Homo sapiens: one gene and its partners. The protein of the gene in region 6 interacts with the protein of the main gene of each other region in a pairwise test. Each region holds a gene or a part of one and is shown on either strand. Other genes may lie near its edges.

Region 1 (3,500 bases), on a different chromosome or scaffold from region 6:
GATCTAGGCGGGGCTTGATATTCAAAATGCTGAACAATACACAGTATTGAACCCACCTCCTGGGTTCATTAGAAGAGCTGCCCACCACAGCTTGGGAACAGGACCCTGGAGGCGCTGGCCTTGGTCAGCCACCCCCTTTAATTGGTCAATTGTGGTAAGGTCCAGGGGGTCCTTGAAGTGGGGCTTATGTGGCCAGGATGGCATCTGGGAAGGTCAGGGCAGCAGCTATTTATCAGTCAGTACAGAGTATGTAAATATTTTATTAATTATACAGCCATGATGGTACCTGCAGACTTTGTCAGTCATACTCACTAGGAATAGGTAGTGGCTACCTGAAGTACTGTATTGAGAAGAGTTCTAAAATTATATTCAGGCTCAGTGGGAAAACACAACAAAAATAGCACCATCAATTATTGCTTTCTGGCAAGGGTGGTGGAGGGGAGTGAGAAATTTCTGCCTAAGTGATGGATGAGGATCTGTGATTTCTGCCTGGGTGGTGGTGGGGAAACAAGGGCATGCATGCCACAAAGCTGCAATCCTAGTTAACAAGCCTGTTAGGATCATAAGAGAGACCTGTTAGCATTGTGGGAGAAGAGTCACCGAAAGAACAAGCAAGACTGAAGACACTGTAATGGGTTAAATAGCATCCTCCACATATTGATGTCCGCCCAGAAACTCAGAATGCGACCTAATTTGGAAATGGGGTCTTTGCAGATATCATTAGTTAAGGATGAAGATAAGATCATATTAGATTAGGGTGGGCCCTAAATCCAATAAGAGTGTTCTTATAAGCGACAAAAGAGGACCCACAGAGAGAGACACAGAGAAGGCTATGTGAAGATGGAAGCAGAGATTAGAGTTACGCTAACACAAACCAAGGAACTCTAAGTGCCAGGAGGAGCTGGAAGAGGCAGGGAAAGATACTCCTCTAGAGCTTTTGGAGGGAGTATGGCCCTACTGACGCCTTGATTTCAGACTTTAGGCCTCCAGAACTGTGAGTAAACACATTTCTGTTGTTTTGAAGCCACCAAGTTAGTGGTTCCTTGTTATAGTTTAGTTTCCCCAGGAAACTAAAATAGACTCAAATAAATATATTGCTAATGGTGGGATTTAGGCTAGTGAGGAGATTTATTAATTTTTGGGGGATCCTAGCACCTGTATCTTTCCCACATCATAACCTCCCATGATTGCGGCATAATTGATTTCTCTGTTATATTACACTAGAGTCCTTGTAGAGGGTGATGTTGAAATATGTCTTCAATGAATGAGCTGGAGATCTCCCTGTGCCCCACCCCCTTCAGCACCCCTCTCCCATCTCAAGGCAGACACTCCAGAGCACTGTGGCCAGAGTTATTCTGCCAGCATTTTCAGTAGGTGAGTTGGGGAACAGATCTCTTTCTTCCAAGACTTTAAGAACAGATGTGCCAAGGAAGAGGCTTGAGACTCTATCGAGACATATTTATAACCAATGGATGATTTAAAATCATCTCAAAGCTGTAATGAACAAAAAATTATTGGGGCAGTAACTATAATAATAATAATAATTATTATTACTATTGTTTTGAGACAGAGTCACACTCTGTCGCCTAGGCTGGAGTACAGTGGCATGATCTCAGCTCAATGCAACCTCCACCTCCTGGGTTCAAGAGATTCTCCTGCCTCAGCCTCCCGAGTAGCTGGGATTACAGGCACCCGCCAGCACACTTGGCTAATTTTTTTTTTTTGTATTTACAGTAGAGATGTGGTTTTGCCATGTTGGCCAGGCTGGTCTCGAACTCCTGGCCTTAAGTGATCTGCCCACCTTGGCCTCCCAAAGTACAGGCATGAGCCACAGTGCCCGGCCAGTAACTATAATTAAAATGTGTACCTGAAGTGTTAAACTCTCCGGCCAGTTGACTATTTGCAAATTGAAAATCTGCCCAAAGTGAACTCGGAAGTCTGCTCCTAGTGGCCGACTGACTGTCCTGGACACCTCCTTGTTGTTGAACAGCACTTTTAAGTACACTGAGCGCTTCTTTACATCCTCCCTTCTCGAGACCTCCGCTCTGCAAAAGGAGACCATTCACAGGTGGAGTTAGTAATAATTTACTAAGATCACCAAAATATATGATAAATAAGAACTGAACAGAACAAGACACACTGCAGGCAACTCTCCCAATCATGTCAGCCCTCATTTAACCAGAGGAGCCACAGGTCTTGCAGAGTAGTATGGAATTTATGGAGAAGCCATTAACAGACACTGAAAAGGGCACAGAGGATTTAAGAACTAGAGTCCATTCATTGTTGTGCTACAGTCTCCTCAGGTTTTTCAGGCAAGCTTTACATTTGTGTCCCAAAGTTTTAAATTCACATATTCCTTGTTAAATGGAATAAATTCAAGACAAAGGGGATAATAATGATTTATATTTGAGTAAGAAGTTTTATTCTAAAAATACAGCAGCATATTGTAGCAGTTAGATCGAGTTCATTTTTCCAAGATACCAAGTTTTTCTCAACATTTTCAGACAGTAAGTGAATGTTCAATGGATGCAGAGTATTAATAAATATTCCTTATTTTTAAAGATAATTTGAATCAGAAAGTTAAAAAAAAAAACAACCTCCCATTGGTCTTTAATTTTATTGTACATATGTGTATAGACATCCACCAAAAAATGCCAGTTATTGGTTAAGTCAATAGCAATTCAAGCTAATTGAGGAAAGGAAAAGGTTAGGGCATCAAAATTTGAAACAAGCTTAGGTTTTTTTTGGGGGAGGGGTGGTAGTTTATTAAAAATTGTTCCATTGTGGAAAATATATATAACATAACGTAATGTTTATCACTTTAACCATTTTTAAGTGTATGATTCAGTGGCATTACATACAATTACTATGTTGTCTAACCATCACCACTATCCACCTTCAGAGCTTCTTCATCATTCCAAACAGAAATTCTCTAGTAATTAAAGGGGGTGGTAGTTTTAACTTTTTACATGTCTATAATTTAGACTTATTCTAGATGAAATAGCTCAAATTACTTCAGCATTTTTTTAATAAAGGACACTTCACAGCAAATTTGCAAGAAGTATCCAAGACACTGAAGACTTAGACTCCACTCATAAAAGATTACCAAATCAAGCCCAAATTTTCCTTTTAGAAAGCATGCTGTGTCATCACATATTTTGAACATTCATGTCAAAATTAAAATTATAGGGTATGGTACTTGTGCCTTGAAAATTGCTTACTTAGTGCAGGGGAATAGTTTATGTATAATATCTTAATATGTGAAGTTGAGGGAACACATGAAAATGCACAAAAAGCTATAATTTTAAAATAAATCAATCATTAGAATAAATCAATCATTAGAACATTAGCAGAAGTTTGAAACCAAGACTGTGAGAAGTCTTATAATGACATCCTAATTAACTCCCACGTTTTAATGAACTCGGAGGCTGACTGACTTTATTTGAATTCTCATTTTTCACGTTGGGATATTGAAGATTCCAGTGTACAACAGTCCCTGT
Region 2 (3,500 bases), on a different chromosome or scaffold from region 6:
GAATACTCATCGCTGTGCCAGCTAACTTTGTAGCACCTGCACGTGCGGGGCACCATTTTAAGCACTTTTTGTATTCGAACTCACTGAATTCTCCCGACAGCCCAGCAGGGTACATATCATTATCATCATCTTTCAGTTGAGACCCAGTAAGGCAATAACTTGGCCCAAGGTCACACAGCAGAGTGAGGTCTCCACCCCAAGCAGTGTGGCCCCAGAGTTCGTGTTCTTTTTCATGAGACTCTCCTGCCCCTCCCTGGACAGATGCAGACACCAGGGTCCAAGAGGACTGGATGGCACTGAGGGTCACAAGGCCATGCCGCTCAGGCTCTGGAGGCTGAGGGACTGTGGGGCTCGTGTGCTGCTGCTGCTTAGTGGCTTGGCCTCCAAGGCTTCTCTCCTCCCCCACCTGGTGGGGAAGTGGCTGAGGTGTGCAGGTGAAGCCTGGCACCGGGAAGCAGTTGCTAAACCATAGCTGTTGCTAGTGCTGGTTTCCCTTTGGGCCTCAGTTTCCCCCCAACCCCTGCCACACTGATTGTTGGGCTGAGGCCTGGGGAGGTTGCCCTCACAGCTATGGTGCCGCACTGCCTCATCCTGACCGTGGGCCCCGCCAGGCCCCGGAAGGCTTCCACATTTCCAGCAGGAGGTGTCGACGGTCCTGTGAGCCTGGGCCTGTGCCACGTGGCTCACACCATTTAGCGGGCTCCCGCCCAGGCCACAGTCTGCACTTCCTTGAACTGTCACAGGTGGGCGTCTCAGAAGCTGGCCTGCAGCACGAGATCCTCCGGAGAGTCCAGGAACTGCTGGATGCAGCCAGGATCCAGCCAGGTACAAGCACAGCTCCAGCCTCTTCCAGGCAGGGCTCCAGCCGTATGTGTGGGCTCTGGTGGGGACAGTCATTTGCTTACATTTCAGGATGACTCCTGAGGGCTGGTTCTAGCCTCTGCTGGTCGGTAAGGTTTCCTCCCAAGGAGCAGGCTTAGGGATCAGTGAGCCCATTTTACAGATGGGAAAAATGGGCCACCAAATTGGGAGAACAGGAGACCTCCACGTAGCAGTGGAGGGGCCCTCCCAGCTCCCTGTCCCATAGCCTTCCCTCAGTCCACCCTACAGACGCTGGGATCCACACACTGAGGGACTTTGGACTAGAGGGAGAAATAGCCCGTCCCCAGGGCCTGCAGTATACCCAATGCTGGGCCTGAGGCATGCCTGTGGACATGGAGAGATGTCCACAACAGGCTGTGAAGGGGCAAAGGCAGGTCGTGAGGCCCGTGGGGAGAAGGGGCAGGTGTGGAGTCTGGGGTCTGCCATGTGCTGAGCATGATCTGGGAGCCCGGCACCTGCCCACCGCTGTGCATGAACCACGTTGAGGAACCTCCGGATCCATCCCGTGAGGAGGCACTGTTGTGGTCCTCATTTTCAAGATGGGGAAACTGAAGCGCAAAGAGGTTAGCATGTCCCCCATCAGGTCCCATTGCTGGCAGATGGTGGAGCCACTGGGCTTGCCTGCCTCCCTGGGGAAGAGGTGAGGGGCCAGAGCAGGGGTGAAGGAGAGGGCAGTCTTGTGCTGCTGGGCTGGGCGAGGCTCTGGACAGGGCATTTTTAGCCAGAGCCAAGGAAGAAGCGGAGGAGCTGAGGCGAAGGTGGAGTTCTGGACTGGACCTCAGTGGGGAGGCCCCGGGGCTCCAGGGGGCTGGGCTGACTGCAGCCCCAGGATAGCTTCAGGCACCAGTTTTGCAGCTACTTTTACTCCAGGGACACTGACTCAACCCCCAAAAAGTCATTAAACTTCTTAGCTTTTTGATATCAAGTCATGTGCAGAATAGGCCCCTTCTGGATGTTCCTGACCCCCCAGCTCTCAGACTGGAGATCAGAAGAGTTTTCCATCAGGAGTTGGGGTCACCCCCGGCAGACAAGCCTCACGTGAGCAGGAGCCACAAACAAACAGGTGCCCTTCACCCTGAGTGGGGTGCAGTGCCTCTGAGCCCAGCAGTCCTCAGGACCGGCTGCTTCTCACTGTTTGAGTCATCCCTGGAGCAAACAAGCAGGTTCTTCCTCTCCATAGCAGATTGGCCATGAGGATCTGTGGCCACATGCAGAAAACGGATGCCTGGGCTGCTCAGGGCTTCCTGCTTGTGCCCATTGGCAGGGGAAGGGGCCATGGTGGGATCCGTCCTCAGTTCCAGAAGGCAAGGGAAACCCTCAATTTCCTAGCAATTCTCTTATTACTCCCAGAAATCGGTATACTTTATATCAAATATAGAGGCTGGGGCCAGGTGTGGTGGCTCACACCTGTAATCCCAGCACTTTGGGAGGCTGAGGTGGGCGGATCACCTGAGGTCAGGAGTTCGAGACCAGCCTGGCCAACATGGTGAAACCCTGTCTCTACTAAAAATACAAAAATTAGCCAGGCGTGGTGGCGTGCACCTGTAGTCCCAGACTCAGGAGGCTGAGGCAGCAGAATTGCTTGAACCCAGGAGGCGGAAGTTACAGTGAGCCAAGATCATGCCATTGCATTCCAGCCTGGGTGACAAGTGAAACTCTGTCTCAAAAAAAAAAAAGAAAAAGAAAAAAACAAATATAGAAGCTGGGTGCAGTGGCTCATGGCTGTAATCCCACACTTTGGGAGGCCTACGTGGGAGGATCACTCAAGCCCAGGAGTTTGAGACCAGCCTGGGCGACATAGGGAGACCCCTTCTCTACAAAAAATAAAATAAAATTAGCTGGGTGTGGTGGTGCACACCTTAGTTCCAGCTACTCGGGGGGCAAAGGTGGGAGGATCGCTTGAGCTTGGGAGGTCGAGGCTGCAGTGAGCCATGATTGTGCCCCTGCACTCCAGCCTGGAAAAGAGTGGGACTGTCTCAAAAACAAAACAAAAAAATTAAAAAAAATTAGCAAGGCGTCATCCCAGCTACTCTGGAGGCTGAGGTAGGAGGATTGCTTGAGCCTGGGAGGTTGAGGCTGCAGTGAGCTGTGATCATGATACTATACTCCAGCCTGGGTGACAGAGCAAGACCCTGTCTAAAAAAAAATATATATATATATATATATGAATGCCCCCTCGAAATGGTGGTTTGGGGGGAAGCACTGATAGCCTTAGAGGGTCTAGTGTTGTAACAGCCTTTAAAAAATCTTTAGTTGTGGCCGGGTGCGGTGCCTCACGCCTGTAATCCCAGCACTTTGGGAAGCCGAGGCGGGCAGATCACGAGGTCAGGAGATGGAGACCATCCTGGCTAACATGGTGAAACCCTGTCTCTACTAAAATTAGCTGGGCACAGTGGCGTGTGCCTATAGTCCCAGATACGCAAGAGGAGAGGCTGAGGCAGGAGAATCACTTGAATCCAGGAGGCGGAGGTTGCAGTGAGCCGAGATCGCACCACACTGCACTCCAGCCTGGCAAGAGTGAGACTCCATCTCAAAAAAAAAAAGAAAAACTTTAGTTTTTCCTGTTATAAAAAATAATGCTTGTAATTCAAGCCGTAGAATAAAGTGAACCGTGATCA
Region 3 (3,500 bases), on a different chromosome or scaffold from region 6:
TTTTTTTTTTTTTTTTTAAGCTCATCAGCTGTAGTTAGTGTTAGTGTATTTTATGTGTGGCCCAGGACAGTTCTTCTTCCAGTGTGTCCCAGGGAAGCAAAAAGATTGGACATCCCTAGTTTAGAGCCAGATTTGTGGCCCTCCTTAGGCAGGGTCTACACTGTTGTAGGTAGGTGTGTGCATTTTCATATCCTCATTCCTCGTTCCATTACAGGTTTCTACCTTTGTGTTCTTCCTGTTACTGTAATTAACATGTCAAACCATTTCCTGTATTCTTACCTGCTGACCCAGATCTTTTCAGGATCAAGGCAGGGGATGGGGGGAGGATAGAAGAGGTAGAAGGGACTAAAAGGAAGATTGTGCATGTCAGCCTGACTCCCTCACTGGGTTGCTGAAAGGCCCGAATGAGGTGAGTGGGGGCCAACATCACGGCCATATGAGTGGGAAGTGATTGTGGTGTCACTGCCAAGTGCAAGTCATGGGTCTGGGCAGCAGGCACATGCTGGGCTGGGTCTCTCTGGCCTGTCCAGCCTCCTGTCCAGAGACAGCAGGGGCTGGTGAAGGCAAATCCTATAGCTAGGCACCAGGTATTTCCTGGCACAAGGCCCTTGGCACAGACCAGCACTGCTCCTCAGTAGTGTCCTTAGCTCACCAGGGGCTCTGGGAACTTTTGTGTTTTCTCGGGCAAGGGAGGATGACTTGAGGCCAGTACCCCTCTCAGCTCTCTTCCATTTCATGGAAAGCCCTGGATGGTTCTATTGCTTCTCTCTCCAGTCCTTCCAGGGGCCAGGAAGGCACTCAAACCAGCTTGTCCAGCAACTTTTCCCCAGGACTCTCCCTCCCTCCCACAGGATCTGCTCTATAGGGACCTGCGGTCATGGTCACCCATTGCCCAAGCAGGCCAAAAGGCTTCTTGGACTCTATACACTTTCCTGATCTTGACCTTAGTCATCCACCAAGCCCCTGTGATTCTGTGTCCTGCGTTGCCTTGGGATCTGCCCTCTCCTCTGCCACCTGGAATACTATAGACAGCCTCCACCTTTTTTTTTTTGTTTGTTTTTTGTTTTTGTGATGGAGTCTCACTGTGTCGCCTAGGCTGGAGTGCAGTGGCACGATCTGGGCTTACTGCAATCCCTGCCCCCCGGGTTCAAGCCATTTTCGTGCCTCGGCCTCCCAAGTAGCTGGGATTATAGATGTGTGCCACCACGCCCAGCTAATTTTTGTGTTTTTGCTAGAGACAGGGCTTCACCATGTTGGCCAGGCCGGTCTTGAACTCCTGGCCTCAAGTGATCTGCCCACCTCTGCCTCCCAAAGTGCTGGGATTACAGGTGTGAGCCACCATGCCTGTCCCAGCCTCCACTTTTGTCTCCCTGGCTCCCCCAGGCTTTCGTTACATTGGCACCAGGCTCTGAGAGACCCTTTTGCCATTGCAGAAAGTCCTGGTACTACCTCCCATAGTGCTGTAGCCTTACTGACCTTCTCACCTGCCAACTTGTCTGCCCAGGGTACCTGCTCCCCTTTGGTTCCTTGGCCCTTTGTTCTTCACTGGCACTTTATTTTTTTGAGACAGAGTCTCGCTATGTTGCCCAGGCTGGAGTGCAGTAGTGTGATCTTGGCTCACTGCAGCCTCTGCCTCCCAGGTTCAAGTGATTCTCCTGCCTCAGCCTCCCAAGTAGCTGGGACTATAGGTGCACGCTGCCACACCCGGCTAATTTTTGTATTTCTAGTAGAGACAGGGTTTCACCATGTTGCCCAGGCTGGTCTCAAACTCCTGACCTCAGGTGATCTGCCTGCCTCGGCCTCCCAAAGTGCTGGGATTACAGGCGTGAGCCACCTTGCCTAGTCATTCACTGGCACTTTTGTGTCTATGAAGTCCTTCCAGCTGCTGAGCAAGTGTTCCAGGCATCCTACCCTGACCTTCTGCTGCCCAATTAGGTGACCTTGCTACCCAGAGAGCACCCACACCCACCCCTCACAAGGCTGCACATACTGCCCAGGACCTGCTGCTGACTTGCTGGGTTTCCTTACAGGCTGCCACCTCTATGTCCTGAATTCTCAGGTCTCACGGTCCTGAGAGGTGATAAGTGTGCAGTAAACATGTGCTGACTGAGTGGCCCTGCCCTGGCCCAGGTGGCCATCCTCTCGCAGAGAGCGAGCCTTCAGGTCCAAGGAGACTCCCTCAGTTTGAGGAAGTGTTGCAATCTCACGGAGAGAGTGAGGGCTCACCACAACTTCACGTTGTGCATATTAGTGTTGCATTCTCCAAACCTCAATTTCTTCATCCTTGAAACTGGGGTTTTACTACCCAATACAAGGTAGAGTTGTGAGGATTACGTGAGATTGTATGTATCAGGTCCCTGATAGACAAGAAAGCTTTTGGCAATCTCCGTATCTTCTTTCCTTTCCTGAGTGTCTCACCTCATTTCCCTGGGCAAGTGGGGCTCTCTCTCTCTGTGTTGCTCCTGCCTTGCATGGTTCATTCAAGGCTACTTCCTTCCACTGCACTAATTTGCCACCCCTCTCTGTGGCAGGAGGAGTTGGAGCACCTGAACCAGGCCAGCGAGGAGATCAACCAGGTGGAACTACAGCTGGATGTGAGTGTCCTTTTCCTTATGTGCTTGGGCTGGTCCTTGGAAGTATCTCCATCTGTCTCTTTCCCAGATTGAGGCAGTGGCGGTGGGAGGGGTGTGTCTGAGAAACAAGAGGGGCTGGGACCCAAACATGTGCCTTTCCTCTGCCTTGTTCCTTTCCAGGAGGCCAGGACCACCTATCGGAGGATCCTACAGGAGTCGGCGAGGAAACTGAATACACAGGGTTCCCACTTGGGGAGCTGCATCGAGAAAGCCCGGCCCTACTATGAGGCTCGGCGGCTGGCTAAGGAGGTATGGCTGGCTGACCACGTTTGAGGAAGGCTACGTGCTGAGCCTGGCCCTGGATTCTTCTGTCTCTATATGGAGTGAGAGACAAAACACCAGACCCTGAGGGCAGAGCCCTGGGCTAGACCTGGCTGGTCGGAACCAGCTCTGTGGGCTCAGGAGGTTCCTTTACCACGTGGGCTCTGGGCTTATGGTCTATAAAATGGTGAGGGTGGCTGTGGGAGAATATTTAGTTCAGCCCTGCTAATGTTTAAGTGCCTTCTGTGTATCAGGAATCAGGCTTTAGGGTATATCAGATATGTCAGTTCTAACATCCTGTTGTTTTCATCTGCGCCCATTTCCTCTTCCCTTTGGTTCATGTCTCTCTTCTGAATCTTTTCTTTGCTTACTCCTCACTCTTTTCCCCATCCCACACCCCTTTTTTCTGTAACAAATTACTTTTAACAAATAATATGTGTTCACCATTGGAAAAACATAATAAAACAAGAAGGAAACAAAAATCACCCAAAATCCTACCATGCACGTTTCATGCATTTTGTTTCCTGGGATTTGTTGTCATCCTGTATGGTGAGGTGACAGATACAGACAACTGCCTTGGAAGAAGAGTTTGTTCCCGAGAGGAGG
Region 4 (3,500 bases), on a different chromosome or scaffold from region 6:
CCAACTGCGGGGGCTGGGGAGGACCAAAAGGCAAAGCAAGACACCTGAAGTCCGAGCTCACCACCCAGTGAGCTGCAAAGGTCTTAGAGATCATCCATCCCTGCCCTTCATTTTACAGAGGGCGACCAAAGAGGGGAGGCTGTTTGCTCCAGTCCCCACTGCAAGTGAATGGCAGGATGTGGGGCCCTTGACAATTAGTCCACTGTTGGCTGGTGATCTGCTCATTCATTTATGGAAGCGATGGTGATGATGATGATGATAATTCACTCATTCATTCATCAATTCAACCAATGTTTATTGAGCCCTTCCTGCTGGGCATTGGAGTGGCTTTTGCTAAACCCTATTGTCTCATTCATCAATTTATTCATTCATATATTCTAGAAGATGTTTAATGGGCATCCACAGCCTGCCTGGTTTTCTCAGACCCCCGGCTCCTCACGTGGATGCCACGAGGCAGCACCATTGCAAACACTCCTGCACTGGGAAAAGCCGCCCTCTGGCTTCTGCAGCTCTGCTACTAACTACAACTAGGCTTTTTAATTAACCTGGGATGTTAATCCAAAGCCCAAGCAGGCCGGTCCAGTTCAACAGGAAGGACACACGTGAGGGCCTCCAGTTCTTGGGTCGGGGCTCATTTCGTCAGAGAGGCATTGTGGCATCAGGGTGTGGCACGCAGGCTCTGGAGCCCGACCACACGGGGTGCAGACCAGGCTCTGCCCTGCAGCCTTGGGCAGGCCACCCACTGCGTCCATTTGATCATCTGCAGAATGAGGAAGCGACAACACCCTCCTGTGTCGGTCAGAATGTGCTAACCCTTGCTGGGATAAGAAGCAGCAGTCTCAGTGGCTTAAACAGAAAGTTGATGTTCCATGCATGCTCCCTGCCCGCCATGGACAGGCTGTGAGGCCTGTTCCTTGGCATCCTCACTTTGGAGCCCAGGTCCTGGGATGGAGCGACCGCCAGCCAGAGGATCCCTGCAGGAGGAGGGAAGGAATGTGGCTAGTCCCCGCAGGCTTCCTCCCAGGAGCAGTACTGCCACCTCTGCTCACATTTCTTTTTTCTTTTTTTTTTTTTTTTTTGAGGTGGAGTCTTGTTCTCTTGCCCAGCCTGGAGTGTGTAGTGGCGCGATCTTGGCTCACTACAAGCTCTGCCTCCCGGGTTCACACCATTCTCCTGCCTCAGCCTCCCAAGTAGCTGGGATTACAGGCCTCTACCACCACGCCCAGCTAATTTTTCTATTTTTAGTAAAGATGGGGTTTCACCATGTTGGCCAGGCTGGTCTTGAACTCCTGACCTTGTGATTTGCCCACTTTGGCCTCCCAAAGTAAGAACAGTGTTGAATCACTTGAACCTGGGAGGCAGAGGTTGCAGTGAGCCGAGATTGTGCCACTGCACTCCAGCCTGGGTGACAGAGCGAGACTCCGTCTCAAAAAAACAAACAAACAAACAAACAAAAAAAAACGGGTGTAGGGGCTTGGAAGGATGAGCTGACTTCCTTAGGGAGTACTCAGTGGCAAGTCCGGTATTGAAGTTGGGCCTGTCTAACTACAAAGCTTGTACTGTGTGACTCAATCAAGCTGGCCTCTGGTGAGCACATGTGGGAGGCCGGCTCCTTGCAAACTGCCCTGTCCATGTGTTACTGAGGACAACTGTAAACCCAAGTACATGTCTCCTAAGCCATCTCCTGACTTTACAGAGAAATGACTGCAGCCCAGAGAGGGGAGGTGACTTGGTATAGGCCACATAGCCAGGGAACCCCCAGGGAATCAAACAGAAATGAGACCTGGAATTACTTTGTACTGGGGGCTGCAGCTCAGGACCACTGAAGTGACAGTGCATTTTCTACCACTGTTGTCAATCACTCTGTTGAGCGTTCTTTGCAGCCCACAGATGTCCAAGGGTTGCCAGGGGCATAGAGCCCTGCCTTGGGTGGGACCAGGCCCACGCGGGGTGTCGGCCTAATCCAAGGAGGGAGTTCCCTGCCTTGGTAAGTTGGTGCAAGACCCGGAGCTCTTATGCATACACCCAACAGGTGGTGATCCCCCGAGTCCAGCCCACCCGCCCAGCAGTGCGCAGGCAGCCAGGGGTTCAAGGACCCACCCACATCCGTGCCTGACAAGTCTCCCCTCCACCCGACTCCTGCTGCCCTTAGCATATCCTCCCCTCGAGGGCCCCCAGTGAGATTTGCTGGCCTGGGTGTCAGAATGCCCCTGGGGTCACTCGGACCATCTTCTTTAATGTCTTCACCTGCTTAGGCCATCGAGTCAGTGGAAAGGAAAAAGCAAGAGAAAAAGCAAGAACAAGAGGACAACTTGGCCGAGATCACCAACCTCCTGCGTGGGGACCTGCTCTCCGAGAACCCGCAGCAGGCAGCCAGCTCCTTCGGGCCCCACCGCGTGGTCCCTGACCGCTGGAAGGGCATGACCCAGGAGCAGCTGGAGCAGATCCGCCTAGTCCAGAAGCAGCAAATCCAGGAGAAGCTGGTGACTGCCCCGCCCCTTTTTCCAGAGCCCATAGAGCCAGGCTCTTTGCTCCCACTGCCTTCCAGGCACAAATGTAGTTGTAGCAGGCCTTGTGCTCTGCCCTAGCACCTGCCCTCAAGGAGTTTCCCTTCTAGTCGGTGGGAGACAAGAGCCAGATAGTGTCACACCCGTATGATGTGGCATTAGGAGTAGGAGTGCCAAGATAGAGGACAGTAGAATGGGAAGACATTGAAGCAAAGACCCAAAAGAGGGTAGGGAGGGAGCCATGTGTCTACCTGGGAAAAGGGCGACCGGGCAGGGTGAGCTGCAAGGGCAAAGGCCTTGAGGCAGGACCCTGCCAGACCTGCTCAGAGAAGGGCGTGGAGCCTGGTGACTAGAGTGGAGTGAGGAGAGGGGCAGGTACGGAGGCCTCAGAGGCAGACGGTCGAGGTCCTGGCAGTCCACTGGGGAGGACTTTGGCTTCTTCTGTGACGGAGACGGGGAACTCTGCAGGGTTTTGGACAGAGAAGTGACAGGATCTGACTTAGGTTGAACAGGATCCCCAGCGTGATCCCCCTGGATTGAGGGCAGACACTAGGGGCTGAGGGGGAAGGAAGGAGATCTCCAGGAAGGCCTTTGCAGTGTTCACAGCGAGAGGTGATGCTGGCTGGGACCACGGGGCAGGCAGTGGGGGTGCTGAGCAATGGTCAGATTCTGGATCTGTTTTGAAGGTAGAGTCGACAGGATTGGATGCATGATTGGGTGGGGACGTGTGAAAGAGAGGAGTTAAAGGCGACTCTAGGTCCTGTGGCCTGAGCAACTAGAGGGATGGAATTGGCATTTCCAGAGATGGGGAAGGTGGTGGGAGGAGCAGGTTGGTGGGTGGGGAGGGGTGGAAATCAGAGTTACAATTTTGGATACGTCAAGTGTGCAAAGTCCATTAGATATCTGTATCTATTAGGATTACATTTGCCTGAATGTGGCAGAAAACCACACATAACAGCATCTTAAACAAAATAGAACTTTCTCTCTTGCAAG
Region 5 (3,500 bases), on a different chromosome or scaffold from region 6:
CACCACGCCTTGGCTAATTTTTGTATTTTTTGTAGAGATGGGGGCCTCCCTTTGCTGCCCAAGCTGGTCTTGCACTCCTGGACTCAAGCAGTCCCACCTCAGCCTCCCAAAGTGCTGGGACTACAGGCATGAGCCACTGTGCCTAACCAAGAATCCTTTAAAAGAAATCTTACACAAAAGTCCAGTCCCATGACAGGTGAAAGCTGAGTTGCTGCGGCTGAAGTAGGGGTAGGGCACCCAGAGCCCCACCTGCCCACTTCCTGAGTGCCCCAATCGAGCCTCTCTCTTCCCTTAAGTTAGCAGCTGCAGCCAAATGAAGGGCAAAGCTTGCTGTATGCCAAAACCTTACCTATAATAATAACAACAGGAATACCTACAATAACCATGGCACATGTCCATATTACTCAGTACTTGTGATATGTGTGTGCCATGTATTTACTATGTTTATTTATTTATTTATATATATATTTTTTGAGATGGAGTCTCGCTCTGTCACCCAGGCTGGAATACAGTAGTCCGATCTCGCCTCACTGCATCCTCTGCCTCCTGGGTTCAATCAATTCTCTTGCCTCAGCCTCCCGAATTGCTGGGATTACAGGTGCCCACCACCATGCCTGACTAATTTTTGTATTTTTAGAAGAGACAGGGTTTCACCATGTTGGCCAGGCTGGTTTCGAACTCCTGACCTCAAGTGATCCACCTGCCTCAGCCTCCCAAAGTGCTGGGATTACAGGCATGAGCCACTGCGCCCGGCCAGGAATGTATTTGCTATGTAAAGATTCATACTTTGCAGATATTATCTTATTTCATCCATACAACCATGACCTTCAAAGGTAGGTCAATGCTATATCATCATTTCCTTCTCTTTTTTTGTGTGTTTGTTTTGAGACAGGGTCTCACTCTGTCTCCCAGGCTGGTGTACAGTGGTGCAATCACAGCTCACTGAAACCTCCATCTCCCTGGGCTCAGGTGATCCTCCCATCTCAGTCCCCTGAGTAGCTGGGACTACAGGCATGCACTACCATGCCCAGCTAATTTTGTACCATGCCCAGATGAAGTCTCACTGTGTTGCTCAGGCTGGTTTTAAACTCCCGAGCTCAAGAAATCCACCTGCTTCAGCCTCCCAAAGTGCTGGGTTTACAATGAGCTACCATGCCAAGCCCCATTTCCATTTTATACTTGAAAAATTAAGTAATTTTCCTTGGGTTACAAGCTAGTCCGTGGCAGAGCTGGCTGGAACTTTATCTTAATTCTCTCTGATTCTAAAACTTCCAAAATGGTGATGTGGCTCCTTTATGGATCTGGAAGCCTGCAGTCTTGCTGATGTCAAACTTGTTATATTTAAATAAACTAAGATTTTATTCATCAACATATAGACCTGTCTCCCATGCTATTATATTCTAGTAATTGTGTTAATAATACTAAGTAAAATTAAGATATGTTCTGCCAATTTCTGTCAGAGAACAGCCAGAATTCACTGGTTACTAATAAAAAAGGGATCCAGGTCTATAAGTGCCTCTGTCATCTTTTAGATCTTTACCTCCCTCTCATTCCCTTTTTTCTAGTTAGCTGCTATCACCAAATTAAGGGCAAAAGGCCAGGTTCTTACAAAAACAAACCCAAACAGCATTAAGAAGAAACAAAAGGACCCTCAGGACATCCTGGAGGTGAAGGAACGTGTAGAAAAAAACACCATGTTTTCTTCTCAAGGTACTGCAGTTTCACAGTTAACAGTGGGAAAGAGAAACTGTTTCTAAGGGAAATATGTTCTAAACCCAAACCAGCACCCAGATATCAAGCAATTACTTCCATTTCCTCCTATATAGAATACCTAAATAGAATTTCTATGGGTGGAACTGATTTTTTTTTTTTTTTTCATGGAGTCTTGCTCTGTTGCCAGGCTAGAGTGCAGTGGCGCAGTCTTGGCTCGCTACAGCCTCTGCCTCCTGGGTTCAAGCGATCCTCCTGCCTCAGCCTCACGAGTAAGTGGGACTACAAGCGCGCGCCACCACGCCCAGCTAATTTTTTGTATTTTTAGTATAGATGGGGTTTCACCATGTTGGCCAGGATGGCCTCGATCTCTTGACCTCATGATCCGCCCGCCTTGACCTCCCAAAGTGCTGGGATTACAGACGTGAGCTGGAACTGATTTTTTTATAATTACATTAAATTGGAATGAAATTGGGCACAATTTGAATACTTGGGAATAGGATTGCTCATTGGATCTTTGTACATATATATATTAGCATAAAGATTTACTTTGACAGAACTAGAATTCCTTTGTTTTAAATTGCCATATCTTTATTTTTAAAACTCTGAAGTTGGCAATATCATTTTAACATAATTGTCAACATTATTTACACTGTTGTTATCTGTTACTATCGTCAGCTGCCTATTTGAAGGTGAAAAAGAGATTCTATTTAGTGGTAAAATCTGCCACCACCCCACATTCTAGGCTCAGCTTCTTGGCTCACCTCTGAGAGCTTTTCCCTGCTGGGACCAGCGGGGGTAGGTCAAGTTTGAAGGGCTGGTAGGCAGAGGAGGAGGGAGTGGGAGGGAGTAGAGTTGATGAGGCGCACTGGCTTTCTGAAATTTCTTGGTCGCTGCTAATGTTTGTTCCTTGTGCCCTAGCTGAGGATGAATTGGAGCCTGCCAGGAAAAAAAGGAGAGAACAACTTGCCTATCTGGAATCTGAGGAATTTCAGAAAATCCTAAAAGCAAAATCAAAACACACAGGCATCCTGAAAGAGGTAAGAGCCCAAAAGCTCAAGGATGGTGTTGATGTCCGATGTCCTTCAAAGCCAAGGTGCTAGCTGTAGGACCAAGAATGTGTTGTTTGTTTTATTTTGTTTTTCTGAGACAGAGTCTCAGTCTGTGGCCCAGGCTGAAGTGCAGTGGCGCCATCTCGGCTCAATGCAAGCTCCGCCTCCCAGGTTCAAGCGATTCTCCTGCCTCAGCCTCCCAAGTAGCTGGGATTACAGGTGCCTGCCACCACACGAAGCAAATTTTTGTGTTTTTAGTAGGGACAGAGTTTCACCGTGTTGGCCAGGCTGATCTCTAACTCCTGACCTCAAGTGATCCTCCAGCCTTGGCCTCCCAAAGTGCTGGGATTACAGGCGTGAGCCACCATGCCCGTACCCAGCCAAGAATCTGTTTTTTACATAAATCTAAAAGTAGGTATATGTCAGTTTGTTTGAGTTTGCTTTGAAGAACAGGAGAATTTCTAATAAATTTTAGCTTTGTCCTTGTCTCTTTACTGAAGAATATCATTTGATTTAACATGACTTAAATAGATATCAATATTATAAAAATGTTTGCATTTGGTTATGGCTGTGAAATTATGTTTAAATGGCTCTACACTGCTGCTATTTTCTGCCTTGCAATATGCAAAAAGAGTTTTCCCATTCCAGTATTTTTATATTGGCATTTCAAATGCTCTAAATCAGTAGTTAACCCCATCACACCCAAGGACCCTTTTTAATAACAAGTATTTTGTATTG
Region 6 (3,500 bases):
GCAGTATGAGGACTGTTAGCTCAAAGTCCCATTTTTATTTTATTTATTTATGTTTTAGAGACAGGGTTTCACTGTGTTGCCTGGCTTGACTTGAACTCCTGGGTTCAAGCATTCTCCCACCTCAGCCTCCCAAGTAGCTGGGACTACAGGCATGTGCATGACTCCATTTAATTTAATTTAATTTAATTTTGCTTGAGCTTTACTGCTTGATCAAATTCCTTTTTTTTTTTTTTTTTTTGGAGATGGAGTCTCGCTCTGTCACCCAGGCTAGAGTGGTAGTGGGCGATCTCCGCTCACTGCAAGCTCCACCTCCCAGGTTCACGCCATTCTCCTGCCTCAGCCTCCTGAGTAGCTGGGACTACATGCGCCCGCCACCATGCCCGGCTAATTTTTTCTATTTTTAGTAGAGACGGGGTTTCACCGTGTTAGCCAGGATGGTCTCGGTCTCCTGACCTCATGATCCACCTGCCTCAGCCTCCCAAAGTGCTGGGATTACAGGTATGAACCACTGCGCCCAGCTAATCAAATTCCATTTTTAAGCAAGAGTATTAAGGACTTAATGAATTGTGCTTTGCTTTTTGTGGCTTTGTGTGCGTGTGTGCGCCCATGGAAATAACATTTCAGGGCCGGGCGAGGTGGCTTATACCTGTAATCGCAGCACTTTGGGAGATTGAGGCGGGCAGATCACTTGAGGTCAGGAATTTGAGACCAGCCTGACCAACATGGTGAATCCCCGTCTCTACCAAAAATAGAAAAATTAGCCAGGTGTGGTGGGGCACACCTGTAATCCCAGCTACGCCAGAGGCTGACATGGAAGAATCGCTTGATCCTGGGAGGCGGAGGTTGCAGTGAGCCAAGATTGCGCTACTGCACTCCATGGGCGCCAGAGTGAGATTCCGTCTAAAAAAAAAAAAAATCACGCCTGTAATCCCAGCACTTTGGGAGGCCGAGGCAGGCAGATCACCTGAGGTTGAGAGTTCAAGACCAGCCTGACCAACGTGGAAAAACCCCATCTCTACTAAAAATACAAAATTAGCCAGGTGTGGTGGTACATGCCTGTAATCCCAGCTACTCCATAGGCTGAGGCAGGAGAATCTCTTGAACCTGCGAGGTGGAGATTGCAGTGAGCCGAGATCGCGCCATTGCATTCCAGCCTGGGCAACGAGAGTGAAACTCCATCTCAAAAAAAAAAAAAAGAAAAGAAAAGAAAATATTTCAGAAAAATGAGTCTGTTCCTGGGACTAGGACAGTAGTAAGCCCCGAGCTTCTGCTGGCCCCACACAAAGAGGGGTGGTGGGCTCCCCCGCCAGGATGGACCTCACAGGAGCTCTATTCACAAAGAGGACCTCCAGGTTCCCCTTAGAGTCATGGGTGGTGTCAGACCCTAAACATGAGAACCAGCATCAGTCAATATAGTGCAATATTCACTAACTTGGAGTTTTCGTTTCAAGGGCATAGGAATGTAGTAAACAGCTATTAATTATTTAAAAATCAACAGGGAGAGTCTGCTCGGTGCAGATTTTGAGTAGGTTGTCCCAACCCCAGGGAGAGCTCCTTGTATCTGGAAGGCCTCTGCCTGTCCTGTACTCAAGTGACCTGAGGAGGGATGTGCTGGACTGTCCGGCCACGTGGCCTTGGGACTTCCAGCCATGCTCGGGAGGAGGACAAAACCAGGCAGGCAGAAGTGGGTAGCGTGCCAGGTCTCCAACACAGGAGAGGCGGCAGGGCCTTGAACAGACTTGGGGACGCGTGTCTCCATGTGGACCAGTGAGTAAAACTGAGTACCCACGGTCCTGGGATGACCAGCAGGGACTCCAGAGGGCGGGCTGCAGCCCGGCCAGTTAGCTCCCTGCTTCAGGCAACGTTGTCACTGCTCTCCAAGGCCCCAAATGAAGGTAAGTGACAGGCTGAGATTTTCCCCAACTCTGGGTAGGGACAGAAACGTGGATGCCCAATTTCGGAACCCCACAATCTACATTAATGGCCTGTACTGATTTCTGGTACGGTTCCTCAGGAAACTGTGTCAAGCAGGATGTTTGCAGGGGCAGGTCTGAAGTGGACACAGTCCACAGCCTGCATAGTTCAAGACCAGCCAGGCCTTGCTCTGTGGCAAAAGTTTTAAACTGTACTTGATAGTGTACACTGTTGCACAGCTTTAAAGCGAAGCAATTCTTGATACATTTTAAATTCTTACTGAATTTTTATTATTTCCAACTGTGCACATAAAGTAAGACTCTTATCATTGTAGACTTTCACCACTTAAAATTCTCAGGCTGGCACGGTGGCACATGCATGTAATCCCAGAACTTTGGGAGGCTGAGGTGAGAGGATCTCTTGAGTTCAGGAGTTCGAGACCAACCTGGGCAATGTACTGAAACCCCATCTCTACCAAAAAAAAATGAAAAATTAGCTAGGCACAGTGGCATGTGCCTGTGGTTCAAGCTACTTGAGAAGCTGAGGTAGGAGGATCACTTGAGCACGGGAAGTGGAGGCTACAGTGAGTGGGGATGCACCACCGCACTCCAGCCTGGGTAACAGAGCAAGATCTTGTCTCAAAAAAGTAAAATAAAATAAAAATGAATAAACTTCTCATAATTCAAACTCACATAAAGGTGACTACCCTGCTGCAGTCACCATGCTAACCAAGCGATTGCAGTTACTGTCACCAGTTATGAGACATCTGTGCCCCCCATGAGATGTGCCAAGGACACACCTGACCCAGGTGTTCCTGCCACCCTTGAATCTAATTGTGCAGACACCAGACAGACTCTGGGACATTCTACATAACGCCCTGCCTGTGTCTACTCCAAAGACTTCAAAGTTCAGAAACAGAGACTGAGAAAATGGTCTGGTTTAAAGGGACAGGAAAACCGTGTACAGTGCTTGTCTCTGAATTGGAAACTGGACTGGGGTGAAAAAGATAGCTGTAAAGGACATTGTTGGCACCATGGACAGAATTTGATCTGAATGGTGGATTGTATAAATGTCAAATTTCCCTAGTTTGTTGTACTGTGACTGTCTCCTTGAGCTTAGTGAATACATTTTGAACTATTTAGGGATACAGGGGCACAAAGTCTGATACCCGATTTCAAATGGAGAAGGAGAGGAGCAGGGGTAGATAGATGATATGGAGGGAGGGAGGAAGTGAGGGAGAGAAAATGACAAAATGGTTGTGGTAAAGGGGAAAAGTGGAAACAGGTGGTGAAGCCAGCCGAGTGAGGGAGTATTGGAGAATTTTTTGTACTATTCTTACAAGTTTTTTTTTTTGTTGTTTTGTGTTTTTTTTGAGACTGAGTACTTGCTCTGTCGCCCAGGCTGGATGGCGCGATCTCGGCTCACTGCAACCTTTGCCTCCTGGGTTCCAACAATTCTCCTGCCTCAGCCTCCTGAGTAACTGGGATTACAGGCCCACGCCACCATGCCCAGCTAATTTTTTACTTTTTAGTAGAGACGGGGTTTCACCATGTTGGCCGAGCTGGTCTCGAATTCCTGACCTCATG
Region 7 (3,500 bases), on a different chromosome or scaffold from region 6:
CCAACATGGTGAAACCCTGTTTGTACTAAAAATACAAAAATTAGCTGGTAATGGTGGCACATGTCTGTAATCCCAGTTACTTGGGAGGCCGAGGCAGGAGAATCACTTGAACCCAGGAGGTGGGGGTTGCAGTGAACAGAGCAGAGATTGCACCACTGCACTCCAGCCTGAGTGACAGAGCGAGACTCCATCTCAAAAACAGAAAGGAAACTAATTCAGGTACGGAGTGCTGGGTGTACAAAAAGCCTCATGTCCACCATAAGGAGACGGGGCTCAGCCTGGACAAACCACTGTTTCTGGAACATTCAATGAAGAGTTTCTCGAATGTCGTAATGCCTTCGCTCAATATTCCAGAACCCCTTCCTCAGGCTCAAGGCCATCAGCCTCTTTAATCTCCCCAGTCCCTGGTCTTATCACCAGTTACTTCCCTTGACCCCCTCAAAACAGACATTCTCATATCCTGAGACTAAGGGCGACTGTGGCCCAGACAGGCTGAGCATCTGGAGTGAGGTCGTACAGCAGAGTTCACTATCGGCTATTTCAGGGTGGAGACATGCAGAAAAAGCAGGCATTTCTTCTTCTCCTTCATTTCGATTTTTTCTGGGAGGATATTAAGACCCAGAGAAGGGGGCCAGGTGCGGTGGCTCACGCCTGTAATCCCAGCACTCCGGGAGGCCGAGGCAGGCGGATCACTTGAGGTCAGTAGTTTGAGACCAGCCTGGCCAACATGGTGAAACCGCGTCTCCACTAAAAATACAAAAATTAGTTGGGCGCGGTGGCGGGTGCCTGTAATCCCAGCTACTCAGGAGGCTGAGGCTGGAGAATTGCTTAAACCCGGGAGGCGGAGGTTGCAGTGAGCCAAGATCGCACCACTGCACTCCAGCCTGAGCAACAGAGCGAGAGTCCGTCTCAAAAAAAAAAAAAAACAGAGGGGAAGGGACTTGTAGGTGGTCACACGGGGAGACGTGGCAGGGCCGGGAGTGGGTACCCCTGCGTTTCTGCTGGTTCTGATGTCCCAGCAGCCTCTGCGGCACTGGGTCTGCTGATCCCTGTGCCCCAGTTCCACATCCCAGGGCCCTCCTCCCTCAGTCCTACAGGGGAGTCCATGAGGTTAACCCCTTACTTCCCACAGGAGGAGAAGATGAGGAAGGAAGAGGAAGAGGCCAAGAAGCGGGCAGAGGATGATGCCAAGAAAAAGAAGGTGCTGTCCAACATGGGGGCCCATTTTGGCGGCTACCTGGTCAAGGTGAGTCAGCCTGCAGGAGCCTGAGGTCTGAGTTCTGAGGGGGCAGGGGCTGGGGGCCAGACCTCTGGTTCCTAACGGAGGAGGGGCTGAGGCCTGGATTCCTGGGTCTGAGGGAGGAGGGGCTGGGCCCTGAACTCCTGGGTCTGAGGGAGGAGGAGCTGGGGTCTGGACGCCTGGGTCTGAGGGAGGAGGGGCTGGGGTCCTGGACTCCTGGGCTGAGGGAGGAGGGGCTGAGGGCCTGGACGCCTGGGTCTGAGGGAGGAGGGGCTGGGGGCCAGACTTCTGGTTCCTAATGCGAGAGGGTCTGGGGCTTGGACTCAGTCTGAGAGGAGGGGCTGGGGGCCTGGACTCCTGGGTCTGAGGGAGGAGGGGCTGGGGGCCTGCACTCCTGGGTCTGAGGGAGGAGGGGCTCGGGGCCTGCAATCCTGGGTCTGAGGGAGGAGGGGCTGGGGTCTGGACTCCTGGGCTGAGGGAGGAGGGGCTGGGGGCCAGACTTCTGGTTCCTAATGCGAGAGGGTCTGGGGCTTGGACTCAGTCTAAGAGAAGGGACTGGGGGTCTGGACTCCTCCTGAATCTGAGGGAGGAGGGAGTGGGGCTGGACTCCTAGGTCTGAAGGAGATGGGCCTGGGGTGCAGACCTGTGGTCCCAACATGGAAATGGTCTGTGGGATCCGACGTGTGGGTCCCGACACGGCAGTGCTCTGTGGGATGTGGCCCCCAGTTTACTGTTCCGCCTCCCCCACCCTCAGGCAGAACAGAAGCGTGGTAAGCGGCAGACGGGGCGGGAGATGAAGGTGCGCATCCTCTCCGAGCGTAAGAAGCCTCTGGACATTGACTACATGGGGGAGGAACAGCTCCGGTAGGTGCTGTGGGGGGCTCGGGGTGTAGGGGCCTGGGTGTGAGACAGGGGGATAAAGGAGCTCACACCCAGATCTGGGTGGGCAGATACTCCGGGTCTCAGCTCCAGTGCTATGTGACTTTGGGCAAGTGGCTTCCCCTCTCTGGGCCTCTGCTGCCTTCTTTGTGAAACATGTCACTGAACCCACTTTTCGTGGCTGCCGTGGCCTGTAGCATCTGACAGGTGTTACCAAGGAAGCCAGACAAGATGACTTCCCTCCCCCAAGTTTAGGAGATTTTGTTAACTCCGTGATGTGCCTTGGAGCTCAGGATGGGCTGTGCCTTTTACCTAAATTCAAGCCAGGAATGCGGGTGAGAATTTTCCAGCTGAGTCCCTCGCATCTATAGCCAAGACAGCCTGCCTCTCATGATAAGCTACAGGACGGCAGGCTGGTGGGGGCTTGCCTTCAGGAGCCCGCCTGTTTCTCCATGTTCTCTGGCCTGGGCTGTGGCTCAGAAACTTCAACCACCCCAGAGTGGCGCCGTGATCGGGTTTGCCGCTTGCACCGAAAGCCCCTGCCCAGGGCTCAGTGCCAGCTTTGCCGGCTACTTTGTGATCTTGCGCACGTTATCTGACTTCTCTGGGGCTCCCATTCCTCATTGGCAGAACAAGGATATAATCACAAAATTGACCTCACAGAGCTGTGAAAGGGCAGTGAGATAGTAATAATAATTACAGGCTGGGCCCGGTGGCTCATGCCTGTAATTCCAGCACTTTGGGAGGCTAAGATGGGAGGATTGCTTGAGGCCAGGAGTTGGAGACCAGCCTGGGCAATGTAGTGAGACCCCATCCTTAAAAAAATAATAATTACAGCAGCAGCTTCCTGTGGAGGGTTTACAACCCTGTGAGGTAGATACTATTATTATCCTTGTGTTAATAGTGAGGAACCTGAGGCACAGAGAGGTTAAGTAACCCTTCCAGGGTTGCACAGCTAGCAAGTGGAAGAGCTGGGATTTGAACCCGGCAGTCTGGTGCAATAGTCCGTACTCTTTGCTAGTGTGCTGTAAAGTGGCTTCATGGTAAATGTTTAACAGCTGCTCTCCAGGGGGCAAAATGTCTAGATTTAGCACATGCCCATTCCCAGGGCGTAAATACTTCCACCTTGCTCCTTTCAAACTACCCGTGTGGGGACACTGAGTGTGGAGACGGGAAAGGATGTGCACAGCAGGCTCCTGGAAGCCCTCTGGGGGGCGCTGTGGGCCCTCCTTCCTGTGCACATGGTTCATGTAAAGTATTGTTGGCCGGGCGGGCGCGGCGGCTCACACCTGTAATCCCAGCACTTTGGGAGGCTGAGGCGGGCAGATCACCTGAGGTCAGGAGACCAGCCTGACCAATATGATGAAATCCCATCTCTACT

The links.
Region 1: the proteins of NINL (region 6) and CC2D2A interact in a two-hybrid assay, tested with the Homo sapiens proteins (one large-scale study listed by BioGRID).
Region 2: the proteins of NINL (region 6) and LRSAM1 interact in a two-hybrid assay, tested with the Homo sapiens proteins (one large-scale study listed by BioGRID and IntAct).
Region 3: the proteins of NINL (region 6) and SH3BP5L interact in a two-hybrid assay, tested with the Homo sapiens proteins (one large-scale study listed by BioGRID and IntAct).
Region 4: the proteins of NINL (region 6) and RIBC2 interact in a two-hybrid assay, tested with the Homo sapiens proteins (one large-scale study listed by BioGRID and IntAct).
Region 5: the proteins of NINL (region 6) and MCM10 interact in a two-hybrid assay, tested with the Homo sapiens proteins (one large-scale study listed by BioGRID and IntAct).
Region 7: the proteins of NINL (region 6) and TNNT1 interact in a two-hybrid assay, tested with the Homo sapiens proteins (one large-scale study listed by BioGRID and IntAct).

The regions. Positions count from the first base shown.
Region 1 is NC_000004.12:15,539,382-15,542,881, reverse strand, and holds part of CC2D2A (coiled-coil and C2 domain-containing protein 2A), read right to left. Parts: intron 2,046-3,500; coding exon 1,868-2,045; intron 1-1,867. UniProt on the Homo sapiens protein: Component of the tectonic-like complex, a complex localized at the transition zone of primary cilia and acting as a barrier that prevents diffusion of transmembrane proteins between the cilia and plasma membranes.
Region 2 is NC_000009.12:127,496,510-127,500,009, forward strand, and holds part of LRSAM1 (E3 ubiquitin-protein ligase LRSAM1), read left to right. Parts: intron 1-743; coding exon 744-825; intron 826-3,500.
Region 3 is NC_000001.11:248,815,916-248,819,415, reverse strand, and holds part of SH3BP5L (SH3 domain-binding protein 5-like), read left to right. Parts: intron 1-2,531; coding exon 2,532-2,594; intron 2,595-2,753; coding exon 2,754-2,882; intron 2,883-3,500. UniProt on the Homo sapiens protein: Functions as a guanine nucleotide exchange factor (GEF) for RAB11A.
Region 4 is NC_000022.11:45,423,693-45,427,192, forward strand, and holds part of RIBC2 (RIB43A-like with coiled-coils protein 2), read left to right. Parts: intron 1-2,255; coding exon 2,256-2,483; intron 2,484-3,500. UniProt on the Homo sapiens protein: Microtubule inner protein (MIP) part of the dynein-decorated doublet microtubules (DMTs) in cilia axoneme, which is required for motile cilia beating.
Region 5 is NC_000010.11:13,196,058-13,199,557, forward strand, and holds part of MCM10 (protein MCM10 homolog), read left to right. Parts: intron 1-1,565; coding exon 1,566-1,710; intron 1,711-2,631; coding exon 2,632-2,750; intron 2,751-3,500. UniProt on the Homo sapiens protein: Acts as a replication initiation factor that brings together the MCM2-7 helicase and the DNA polymerase alpha/primase complex in order to initiate DNA replication. Additionally, plays a role in preventing DNA damage during replication.
Region 6 is NC_000020.11:25,575,532-25,579,031, reverse strand, and holds part of NINL (ninein-like protein), read left to right. Parts: intron 1-3,500. UniProt on the Homo sapiens protein: Involved in the microtubule organization in interphase cells. Overexpression induces the fragmentation of the Golgi, and causes lysosomes to disperse toward the cell periphery; it also interferes with mitotic spindle assembly.
Region 7 is NC_000019.10:55,135,707-55,139,206, reverse strand, and holds part of TNNT1 (troponin T, slow skeletal muscle), read left to right. Parts: intron 1-1,132; coding exon 1,133-1,246; intron 1,247-1,994; coding exon 1,995-2,104; intron 2,105-3,500. UniProt on the Homo sapiens protein: Troponin T is the tropomyosin-binding subunit of troponin, the thin filament regulatory complex which confers calcium-sensitivity to striated muscle actomyosin ATPase activity.